2 separate regions of the Homo sapiens genome follow, and region 2 is linked to region 1. Evidence: fine-mapped expression QTL. Tissue or cell type: hypothalamus. Region 1 holds a variant in brackets; the other region holds the start of a gene. All regions are shown on one strand. Distances are from middle to middle.

Region 1 (5,381 bases):
ATCCTCCCCTAGAGCCTCCGGAAGGAAGTGAATACAAATGTAGTGGACTAAACAGTGGCCCCCAGAAAGATCTGTCCATATCCTAAAGCCTAGAATCTGGAATGAGACCTTATTTGGAAATAGGGTCTTTGCAGATGTAATTAGTTAAGGATCTTGACATGAAATCATACTGGATCACAGTGATTTCTAAATCAAATGAGAGGTGTCCCTATAAGAGACAGAAGAGCAATGGATGATTTGATGCAGAAAATACATAAATAAATGCAATAAAATAAGAGACAGAAGAGGTAACACAGACACAGACACAGAGGAGCAGGCCATGTGGAGACGGAGGCAGAGACTGGAGTGGTGCGGCCACAAGCCCAGGGATGCCTGGAGCCCCCAGGAGCCGGGAGAGGCAGGACGGAGCCTCCCCTAGAGCCTCTGGAGAATCGTGGCCCTGAGATGCTTTGATCTCAGGCTCGGGTGTTCTGAACTGGGGGAGAATAAAGTCTTGTTATTTTTAGCCACCCAACGTATGTTAATTTGTTAGGGGCCTCAGTACATTCCTCCAGAAGTTTTCCTGGAAGCTGCCAATTTTGCCTTTTTAGCAATACCCGTTTCCTTGGTCCCATAAGGCAGGAACCATTCAGGGCAAAGAGAACGGCTGGGGTGCAGCATGCCTTCTTCGAAGTGCGCTTCTGCAGGTCACGGGCTTCATCTCTCTCTGCATCCTGCCTGTCCAAGATGGTCATTGGCATCAAACTCTGTCTTGATTTCATGGCATAATAAAATTGTCCCATGAAATTCCTCCCCTCTGCTTTACAGCTTGCCTGACTTGTCCTCTTTTGCTCTGGGGAAAGCTATAAAATTACACACTGAAAAAAACGGATTTGGCACTCCAGTCTCCCAATTCCACGTGTCAGAGAGGCTGCATGTAAAAAATTAAACAGACAGGGTAGATTGTCTTCCCTTTATCAGAAAGTAGGAAAAGTAGACACTTGTAGAGACAGGGGTTTCTGTTTAGAAGGAGGAAGCATCGCTCTTTTTAGCATAAGAGTTTTGCAAAATGAGCATGGCTTTTGTGAACGTATAGATCTGAATCAAAATGAAAAAACTGGCTTTCGATTCGGGAGCAAATCAAACTTTGAAATCATGAATGTTGGTGTGTTCTTTTACTCTTGTGTCTTTACTCTTGAAGGACTTGGAACTTTCTGCAAATTCTTCTCCAAATATTTGGGAGGGGCCGCCAGGTGATCTCTCTTGGGGTTATATACAAAGCAGACACCTTGTTTTTGGTAAACACAACAAACATTTTTTTCTCCATCTTTGGGCTTCTTGGGAATATAACTTTTATAGCCAAGCACCAAGGTGCTCCACTGTGGGTCAGGCATGGTGACTCATACCTGTAATCCCACCACTTTGAGAGGCCAATGTGGGAGGATCACTTGAGGCCGGAAGTTCAAGACCAGACTGGACAGCATAGCAAGACCCCTTCTCTATTAAAAAAAAAAAAAAAGTGCTCCACTGGGAAAATTCTCCTTCTTCACTTCCTACGACCATCTCCCTCTCAATGTCACCACTACTGCTGAAGCAATGCTGTCATATCTTTGCCACTCTCGGCAGCATGGAATATAAGCATGCCTCTCTCTCTCTTGCTGTTTCTCTCTGAGAAAACCCCAGAAACCTAGCTCACACCCAAAGCCTCACATAGATTGCAATGAAAGATCTCTTTCCTCTCCTCTTATACCTTCTTATTACTTCCTAAAAGGACTACAGATGTTGATCCAAACATTTACTAATAGTATGACCCCATTCATGGAATATCTTTACAATGTAGTTTTTTGTTTTGTTTGGTTTTTTTTGTGTGTTTTGAGACAGACTCTCACTCTGTCACCCAAGCTGGAGTACAATGGTACAATCTCGGCTCACTGCAACCTCCGCCTCCCAGTTTCAAGCCATTCTCGTGCCTCAGCCTCCCAAGTAGCTGGAATTACAGGCGTGTGCCACCACGCCTGGCTAATTTTTGAATTTTTAGTAGAGACAGGGTTTCCCCATGTTGGCCAGGCTGGTCTTGAACTCCTTACCTCAAGTGATCCTCCTGCCTTGGCCTCCCAAAGTGCTGGGATTACAGGCATGAGCCACTGTGCCTGGCCTGGAAGTTACGATTATTAACAAGACAAAATAACATATAGGTCAGAGGTATGAAAATCAAGATAGAACTCTTTTAGTATCCTCAGGTAGACATGTATTCAACTTTTGGTCAAGTGTAGATGCCTATTTTTAAAAAAATATTTGGTTGGAGAGGACACAGAGAAGCTAAGGGGGTTGGTGAATGCAAATGGGAAGAAAGAATGCTTAATGCATCTTGAGAAAAGTAGAGGCAAGCCCTGCGATCTAGTCAAAAGTTTTATAAAAGCATCATTAAAAGATGGCATGAGAATCCTTATTCTCTGTCTCCACAGATGTTCAAAGCTGAGAAGAGAGGAAGCTGCGCTGTCTTATTAAAATGGAGTCAACTACAGAGGCACGTAAGTGATTTCTTCTATCAAAACCAATCAGCAGTGGGATCTGTAGAGACCTGTCCAAGCTCCCTTCCAACCGTATATTTCCATGAACGTGCCCCAGGTTATGAAATCAGTTCCAGGACCAGAGTTCACAGTCCCTCCGAGCCCACTTAGACTTGCATTACAGAAAACGACAGGGGTCCTCAACTCTGTATTTGAAAAATAAATATGGTCCTAATTATACTAACTACCTTTCCAAGCCAGAAGTTTTATCCATTTCACCTTAAGGTCATGTATTCGGGAAAGGACAACCTCACATGTGGAAGCCATTTCTCTACAATTTACTAGGTGATCACAGGCTTCATTTCATCAAACCATTTTTCTACAGTAGCCTCATAAAATTCCCAGAAATACCAAGGTGAGGAGTGGCCATTTGCTGCTATGTTCTTTCCTTGGTTGGTTCCATTATAGCCCTTCAAGGATAGAGCAACCAGGAGTGATGGCCCACACCTGTAATCTCAGCTTTGTGGGAGGCGGAGGTGGGTGGATCACTTGAAGCCAGAAGTTTGA[G/A]ACCAGCCTGGCCTACATGGCAAAACTCCATCTCTATGAAAAATACAAAAATTACCTGGGCGTGGTGGTGCACACCTGTAATACCAGCTACTCAGGAGGCCGAGACAGGAGAATTGCTTGAAACTGGGAGGTGGAAGTTGCAGTGAGCCAACATCACGTCACTACACTCCAGCCTGGGTGACAGTGAGACTTTCTCCCCAACCCCTAAAAAAGGAAAGAACAAAAGATCAAAGAAGACTTCTGACAATAATCCTACTTCTTTCTCAGAGATGGTGGTCTGGAACAAGAAAACAAGGATGAATAATAGTGAAGTTGATTTATTGGAGGCTGCGAATATCATTTAATCATGAATCATTTAATCTTCCTGTCTTGTGGCTTGACCCTAAATAGCTCCTGGACCAGTCTACATCGTGCCAGCTCTCATAATGTTAGGAGCCAGGTGGAAGATTTCATCATCTCTTCCTTTCTTGATTGCAACACCCCACTAACTTGTACCGCCTCAATTCCCAGCCTTATTCTTCTCTAGTCCAAAACCCTCTGGACACAGTAGAAGATGAGATTATAGACCTGACCACGCTGTGTTCTGTGTAGACCCATTTCATGGTTTTCCACTGTTCCTGGGATAAAGAAGAAGCTCCTCATCTCGGACCACGAGGTCTGAATCATCTGTACTTGTTGCTTCTTTCCTGCTACCTCTCCGTCCTCAATGTTTGCCATCGTTTACCTCATTCTGTGTCTCCCAGCCACACTGCAGTTCTTACTGCTCTTCAGGGTTGCGTCACCCATTTTGTTACTGAGCAATGGGCTTGCTGCTTGACATGTATATAAGCCAATACTAGGGCATTGCTTTGGGGATTTTGTTGTTATTGTTTAAGACAGGGTCTCACTCTGTTGCCCGGGATGGAGTGCAGTGGCACGATCTTGACTCAGCGCAGCTTCTGCCTCCCAGGCTCAAGTAATCCTCCCATCTCAGCCCCCCGAGTAGCTGCGACCACAGGCACACATCACCATGCCTAGTTAATTTTTGTATTTTTGGGTAGAGACTGGGTTTTGCTGTTTCCCACGCTGGTCTCCAACTCCTGAGCGGAAGCAATCCACCTGCCTCAGCCTCCAAAGTGCTTGGATTACAAGTGTGAGCCACCACGCCGTGCTGTAGGGTACCGGTTTTTTTTTCTTTTTTCTTTCTTTTTAAGACTTTATTGTGAGGTCAACTGGCAAGGAGACAGGAGGCAGGGCTCAAATCTGTCTCCCTGATCTGGGGAGTTAGCTCAAATGTTTATGGGTTAAGAAGTATGTGGCTGGGCACAGTGGCTCATGCCTATAATGATGGCACTTTGGGAGGCCGAGGCAGGAGGATTGCTGGAGGACAGGAGTTCAAGACCAGTCTGGGCAACATAGCGAAACCATATTTCTACAAAAAATACAAAAACTAGCCAGGTGTGATGGTGCATGCCTGTGGTCCCAGCTACCCACCCAGGAGGTGGATGTGGGAGGATCAATTAAGCCCAGGAGGTCAAGGCTGCAGTGCACCATGATCACGCCACTGTACTCCAGCCTGGGCGAAAGAGCAAGACCGTGTAAAAAAAAAAAAAAAAAGAAAGAAAAGAAAAGAAAAGAAAAAGAAGTATGTGGAAGTGCTGGTGCGGCAAGTTTTAATCAAAGGGCTTTAACCTTGGCTATTATAATAAGGTATGGAATGGTGGATTTCAGCACAATGTCTTCTGGGAGAGTAGACCTTTTGCTTCTGAATGGGTTTCTGCATCCTGGTTCTGGTCATGTCCAGCTGTCTTTGGTTCCATAGGGAAGCATCATCAGTTTCCAGTGTGATTGGAGGTCAAAGCTTTTTCCCTTTGCCTGTGCCCAGGCTACACAACATGCAATGTTGGTTCTGTTTCAACTGTATAACAGCTTAAACAATTGAGTTGAACTGGTTCAACCTGATCTCATGGTTACAGTTTCCCTACTCCATTCCTTGCTAAACTCTACCAGGAAGGACCCAATGCTCCATATTACCACCCCTTACCCTACTCACCCATCAGATTTTCCTTCAAACATCACTTTCTCGGGAAATCCTTCCTTCCTTTCCAAACTTGGGGAATTTCCTCTAACGTTCCTTTATTTCTACTGCCAAACACTCCTCCTGGTACTAATGAAGTAGGAACTAGTACTGTTATTTCTCTCTCCACTAAAACATAAGAGAAAGACAAATATGGTAACCACACTGCTAGCATGTTCCCTCGGGGTATTCTCCACTCATTACATGCTTTTTGAATATGTAATATGTAAATTTGCCAATATGTAAATATTCAATATGTAAATATGCCG
Region 2 (5,381 bases), 140 kb before region 1:
CAATTGCTACTAAGAGAATAAAATGCCTAGGAATCCAACTTACAAGGGATGTGAAGGACCTCTTCAAGGAGAACTACAAACCACTGCTCAAGGAAATAAGAGGACACAAACAAATGGAAGAATATTCCATGCTCGTGGATAGGAAGAATCAATATCGTGAAAATGGCCATAGTGCCCAAAGTCATTTATAGATTCAATGCCACCTCCATCAAGCTACCAATGACTTTCTTCACAGAATTGGAAAAAACTACTTTAAAGTTCATATGGAACCAAAAAAGAGCTCACATTGCTAAGACAATCCTAAGCAAAAAGAACAAAGCTGGAGGCATCACGCTACCTGACTTCAAACTATACTACAAGGCTACAGTAACCAAAACAGCATGGTACTGGTACCAAAACAGAGATATAGACCAATGGAACAGAACAGAGGCCCCAGAAATAACACCACACATCTACAACCATCTGATCTTTGACAAACCTGAGAAAAACAAGCAATGGGGAAAGGATTCCCTATTTAATAAATGGTGCTGGGAAAACTGGCTAGCCATATGTAGAAAGCTGAAATTCGATCCCTTCCTTACACCTTATATGAAAATTAATTCAAGATGGATTAAAGACTTAAATGTTAGACCTAAAACCATAAAAACCCTAGAAGAAAACCTAGGCAATACCATTCAGGTCATAGACATGGGCAAGGACTTCAAGACTAAAATACCAAAAGCAGTGGCAACAAAAGCCAAAATAGACAAATGGGATCTAATTAAACTAAAGAGCTTCGGCACGGCAAAAGAAACTACTGTCAGAGTGAACAGGCAACCTACAGAATGGGAGAAAATTTTTGCAATCTACCCATCTGACTAATATCCAGAATTTACAAAGAACTCAAACAAATTTACGAGAAAAAAACAACCCCATCAAAAAGTGGGTGAAGGATATGAACAGACACTTCTCAAAAGAAGACATCTATGCAGCCAACAGACACATGAAAAAATGCTCATCATCACTAGTCATCAGAGAAATGCAAATCAAAACCACAATGAGATACCATCTCATGCCAGTTAGACTGGTAATCATTAAAAAGTCAGGAAACAACAGATGCTGGAGAGGATGTGGAGAAATAGGAATGCTTTTACACTGTTGGTGGGAGTGTAAATTAGTTCAACCATTGTGGAAGGCAGTGTGGTGATTCCTCAAAGATCTAGAACTAGAATAACCATTTGACCCAGCAATCCCATTACTGGGTATATATCCAAAGGATTATAAATCATGCTACTATAAAGACACATGCGCAAGTATGTTTATTGTGGCACTATTCACAACAGCAAAGACTTGGAACCAACCCAGACGTCCATCAGTGATAGACTGGATTAAGAAAATGTGGCACATATACACCATGGAATACTATGCAGCCATAAAAAAGAATGAGTTCATGTCCTTTGCAGGGACATGGATGAAGCTGGAAACCATCATTCTCAGCAAACTATCACAAGGACAGAAAACCAAACAGCACATGTTCTCACTCATAGGTGGGAATTGAACAATGAGAACACTTGGACACAGGGCGGGGAACATCACATACCAGGACCTGTCAGGGGGTGGGGGTCTGGCGGGGGGATAGCATTGGGAGAAATACCTAATGTAAATGATGAGTTGATGGGTGCAGCAAACCAACATGTATACCTATGTATCAAACCTGCACATGTATACCTATGTATCAAACCTGCACGTTGTGTACATGTACCCTAGAACTTAAAGTATAATTTAAAAAAAAATCAGATCTCGTGAGACTTATTCACTACCATGTGAACATTATGACGGAGACTGCTCCCATGATTCAGTTATCTCCCACTGGGTCCCTCCCACAACACGTGGGAATTATGGAAGCTGCAATTCAAGATGAGATTTGTGTGGGGACACAGCCAAACCATGTCACCATGGAATAGTACACAGCCCCCCAAAAGAATGAAATCATGACTTTTGCAGCAACATGGATAGAACTGGAGGACATTATCCTAAGTGAAACAACTCCAAAACAGGAAGACAAACACCCCATGTTCTCACTTATAAGTGGGAGCTAAACACTGTGTAGACATGGACATAGACAGTGGAATAAGAGACATTGGAGACTGGGAAAGGAGGGAGGGGAGAGGAAGGTGAGGGATGAGAAATTACCCAGTGGATACAATGTACACTATTTGAGTGATAGTTACAGTAAAAGCCCAGACTTCAGCACTCTGCAATCTCTCCATGTAACAAAACTGCACTGGTATCCCCTAAATCTATAAAAATAAAAAAACGTTTAAAAATTACAAATAAGAGGCCAGGTGTGGTGGCTCATGCCTGTAATCCCAGCACTTTGGGAGGCTGAGGCTAGTGGATTGCTTGAGTTCAGGAGTTCGAGAGCAGCCCGGGTAACATGGCAAAACCCCATCTCTACAAAAAAATACAAAAAGATTAGCCAGGCAGGTGGTGCATGTCTGTAGTCCCAGCTACTTGGGAGCCTGAGGTGGGAGTATTTCTTGTACCCAGGAGATCGATGCAGTGAGCCAAGATCACACCACTGCACTTCAGCCTGGGCAACAGAGGGAGACCCTGTCTCAAAAAATAAAAATAAAAGTAAAAATACTCAACCTTACCTTATTCTTAAGTATCCATTGCTGTGTGGCTCTGGGGTGGCTGTGCCTCCTGGGGTAAAAATGTACCAGCATTTTTCTGCAAAGAATGGGGAATAAATAGGGTTTGGAGAAATGGAGTCTCTATGAAGGTATTTACTTACAACGCAAGAGGACATGGGGAAAACCACAAGTCATTTTATTTTGGTTTCTTCAACAATGAAGGACTTCCTCTCTTTGAGGAAGATGGTGCTTTCTGTGTGTGTGTGTGTGTGTTTGTGTGTTTGTGTGCGCACACACACACACACACACACACGCTCATTAAGCATTTACAGTCCTGGAATGTTATTCTGACTACTCATAGCAACTCCACTTCCTGCCCACCCAAACAGTCATCCGTTATGGAAAATATGCCTGCCTCTGAAATATTTACCGGTGCCCCGGAGTGCCACACAGGCATTTCTTATAAATACTCAACCTTTTGCTCAAGTCTCCAGGGGTCCCTTTTCTCTCTGGGTAGCAGGGTGAGTGTCCATGATTTGCTGACGCTGCAAGCTCCCCCATGTCCAGCTGCTCTGTGATATTTATTTTCCACCTCCGATAATTAACCTCATCCTCCTCTCAAAATGTAAGCAGCAGGCAGCTTTAGAAAGATGGTGCAGATTTGCAGATTGCAGGCTTCAACATGCAGGACCTTGTCGAGTGCATTCAGAGGCTGGTTTGATTGAAGGAGATTTTTGATGGCACAGTGAGTCAGGGCAGCTACAGAGGTACCACTGGACGGTGGAAAGCCACCGTGGAACGAAAGTCTCTGCGGGAATCAGCTGAGTGGCCTTGAATTAGAAAGGGATGTGGGGCAGATGTAAGGAGTTGACACTGAATTTGCACAATGCTGCCTTGTGTGTTTTCTTGCCTGTCTCCACGACCCCTCTCGAAAGCCACCTGGAAATACTGGACGCATAAACTTGGCATGGATTTAACATCATGCTAGCTGGCAGAACTCAGTGATCCCTGAGCTAAGCCAAAGGGGTAATAAATTAAAGACATGCTATGTTGGAAAGAGCTGCAGGGGGAAGCAGATTTATCAATGCGAGGGATGTCTGTAGGCACAGCGGACATTGTCATCTCCCCCCATTCCCCAGACAGACTGGGACAGGAAGAGGAAGCTCATTATTAGATCTGTAATTCATCTCGGGGGTTTTACTGCTACTCTAGCAAGCTCTAAGTGACAAGGATAATTTCTCTTTCGGCACAAACAGTTCTATTACAAATGTGATCTCTCTGGGCTTCCAGTATAAGCCCACTGCTACTGGCACGAATGAAAGACCTAGTAAAAAGAAAGTTGTCTCTGCAAAATGTTGGCACTGCAGAGACTGGGGGTTAAAAAGTTTGAAAAGGGGCAGCTCACGCACTCTTTCTTTACTGCTCAGAAGGTATTATGGTCATATTTGCGACTGCAGAGTCGATCTACATGTTTATTTGGTGGAAAATAAGACGACTCAATTGATTATTTAATTTATCCATTTGTTTTCATGAAACAGACTCTGTTTGGTACAAAAGCATCACAATGAATAAAAGAAGAAAATATACAGTGTATCCTGAAAGCCTGAGTTCAGGCGCAGAGATGAACTTGGCTGTTACATCTAAAGAGGAATTTCCATCCTAAAAAGGAAAGTGCTCTGATGCAAAGACCCTGTTACTTTAATGCTGTGCTTTTAGACAAGTTGGGAAGGGAACTGTGAGTACGACAGGCCCCACATCTCCCGAAGCTACCATAGAATCTGATATTTTGAATGAGGACAAGGAGACTTTGTTCTTATAGAACTAGTCTGTTTGCAGTTTGCAGGACTCTGCGATGCTAAACAGACATAAAAATCACACAAACTGGCTAGGCACAGTGGTTCGGTTCATGCCTGTAATCCCAATAGTTTTGGAAGCCAAGGTGGGAGGATCCCTTGAACCTAGGAGTTCAAGACCAGCTTGGGCAACATAGCAAGGCCCCATCTCTACAAAAAAAAAAAAATTATCCAGGTGTGGTGGCACATGCCTGTGGTCCTAGCTACTTGGGAGGCTGAGGTGGAAGGATTGCTTGAGCCCAGGAGTTCAAGACCAGCCTGGGCAACATAGTGAGACTTCATCTCTACTTTTTTTATGAAAATGAAAAAAAAAGATATACATTCTATTTGGGAGACTGAGGTGGGAGGATCGCTTTTGTTCAGAAGGTCAACAGTGCAGTGAGCTATCATCTCGCCACTGCACTTCAGCCCGGGTGACAGAGCAAGACCCTGTCTTCAAGAAAGAAGAAGGATGAGGAAGAAGAGGAGGAGGAGGAAGAGGAAGAGGAAGAAGAAGAAGGAGGAGGAATCATGTAAACAGATCCAATTAGTACATCTGCTAAAGTAAAGATTTGTTCTACTGTGCAGAGTCCGCTCTGTGTATCTGTCATATTGGAAAACATACTGCATTGGGAAAAATATTAAAATTTGATCTTCTCAGACTTGTTAGGTAATTATAGGAGCTTCTCAATCCTTCTTATGTTGTTCTTTTTTTACTTTTTCCTTCCTCATCTTCATCATCATTTCGGACCTCCTAAATTATGCACGAAGCACCCTCATGAGTCAGGGTCCAAGTTGAGATGCTCTATCTGCATCTCTCAAAACCCCAAGCGTATGCATCCAAAGCTAATTGACGAGTGCTCTATTTCTTCAGGAATCAGTTCAATTGGTTTCTACCCATTGGTATTAACTACATGACTTTTGGAGAGAAACT

Which allele goes with the higher level. Alleles are on the strand shown, and positions count from the first base shown. SD is a standard deviation of normalised expression in the study named.
As copies of G replace A in region 1, the expression in hypothalamus of the gene that starts at base 3,189 in region 2 goes up (large effect, 1.1 SD a copy in GTEx).

The links. PIP is the estimated chance that this variant, and not a neighbour inherited with it, causes the effect. A credible set is the group of variants that fine-mapping cannot tell apart.
Region 2: it holds the start of LINC01546, and the variant in region 1 is the best candidate, but not a certain one, in a credible set for the expression of LINC01546 in hypothalamus (GTEx, PIP 0.65).

What each region holds. Positions count from the first base shown.
Region 1 is chrX:3,127,563-3,132,943 of GRCh38, reverse strand. No RefSeq gene overlaps it. Among named protein-coding and RNA genes, the nearest start is that of ARSF, 89 kb to the right of the region's middle. The variant G/A (reference allele first, on the strand shown) is at 3,057.
Region 2 is chrX:3,269,628-3,275,008 of GRCh38, reverse strand. LINC01546 (long intergenic non-protein coding RNA 1546) reads right to left here and starts at 3,189. Exons shown (of 3, transcript NR_038428.1): 1 at 3,091-3,189; 2 at 2,637-2,712.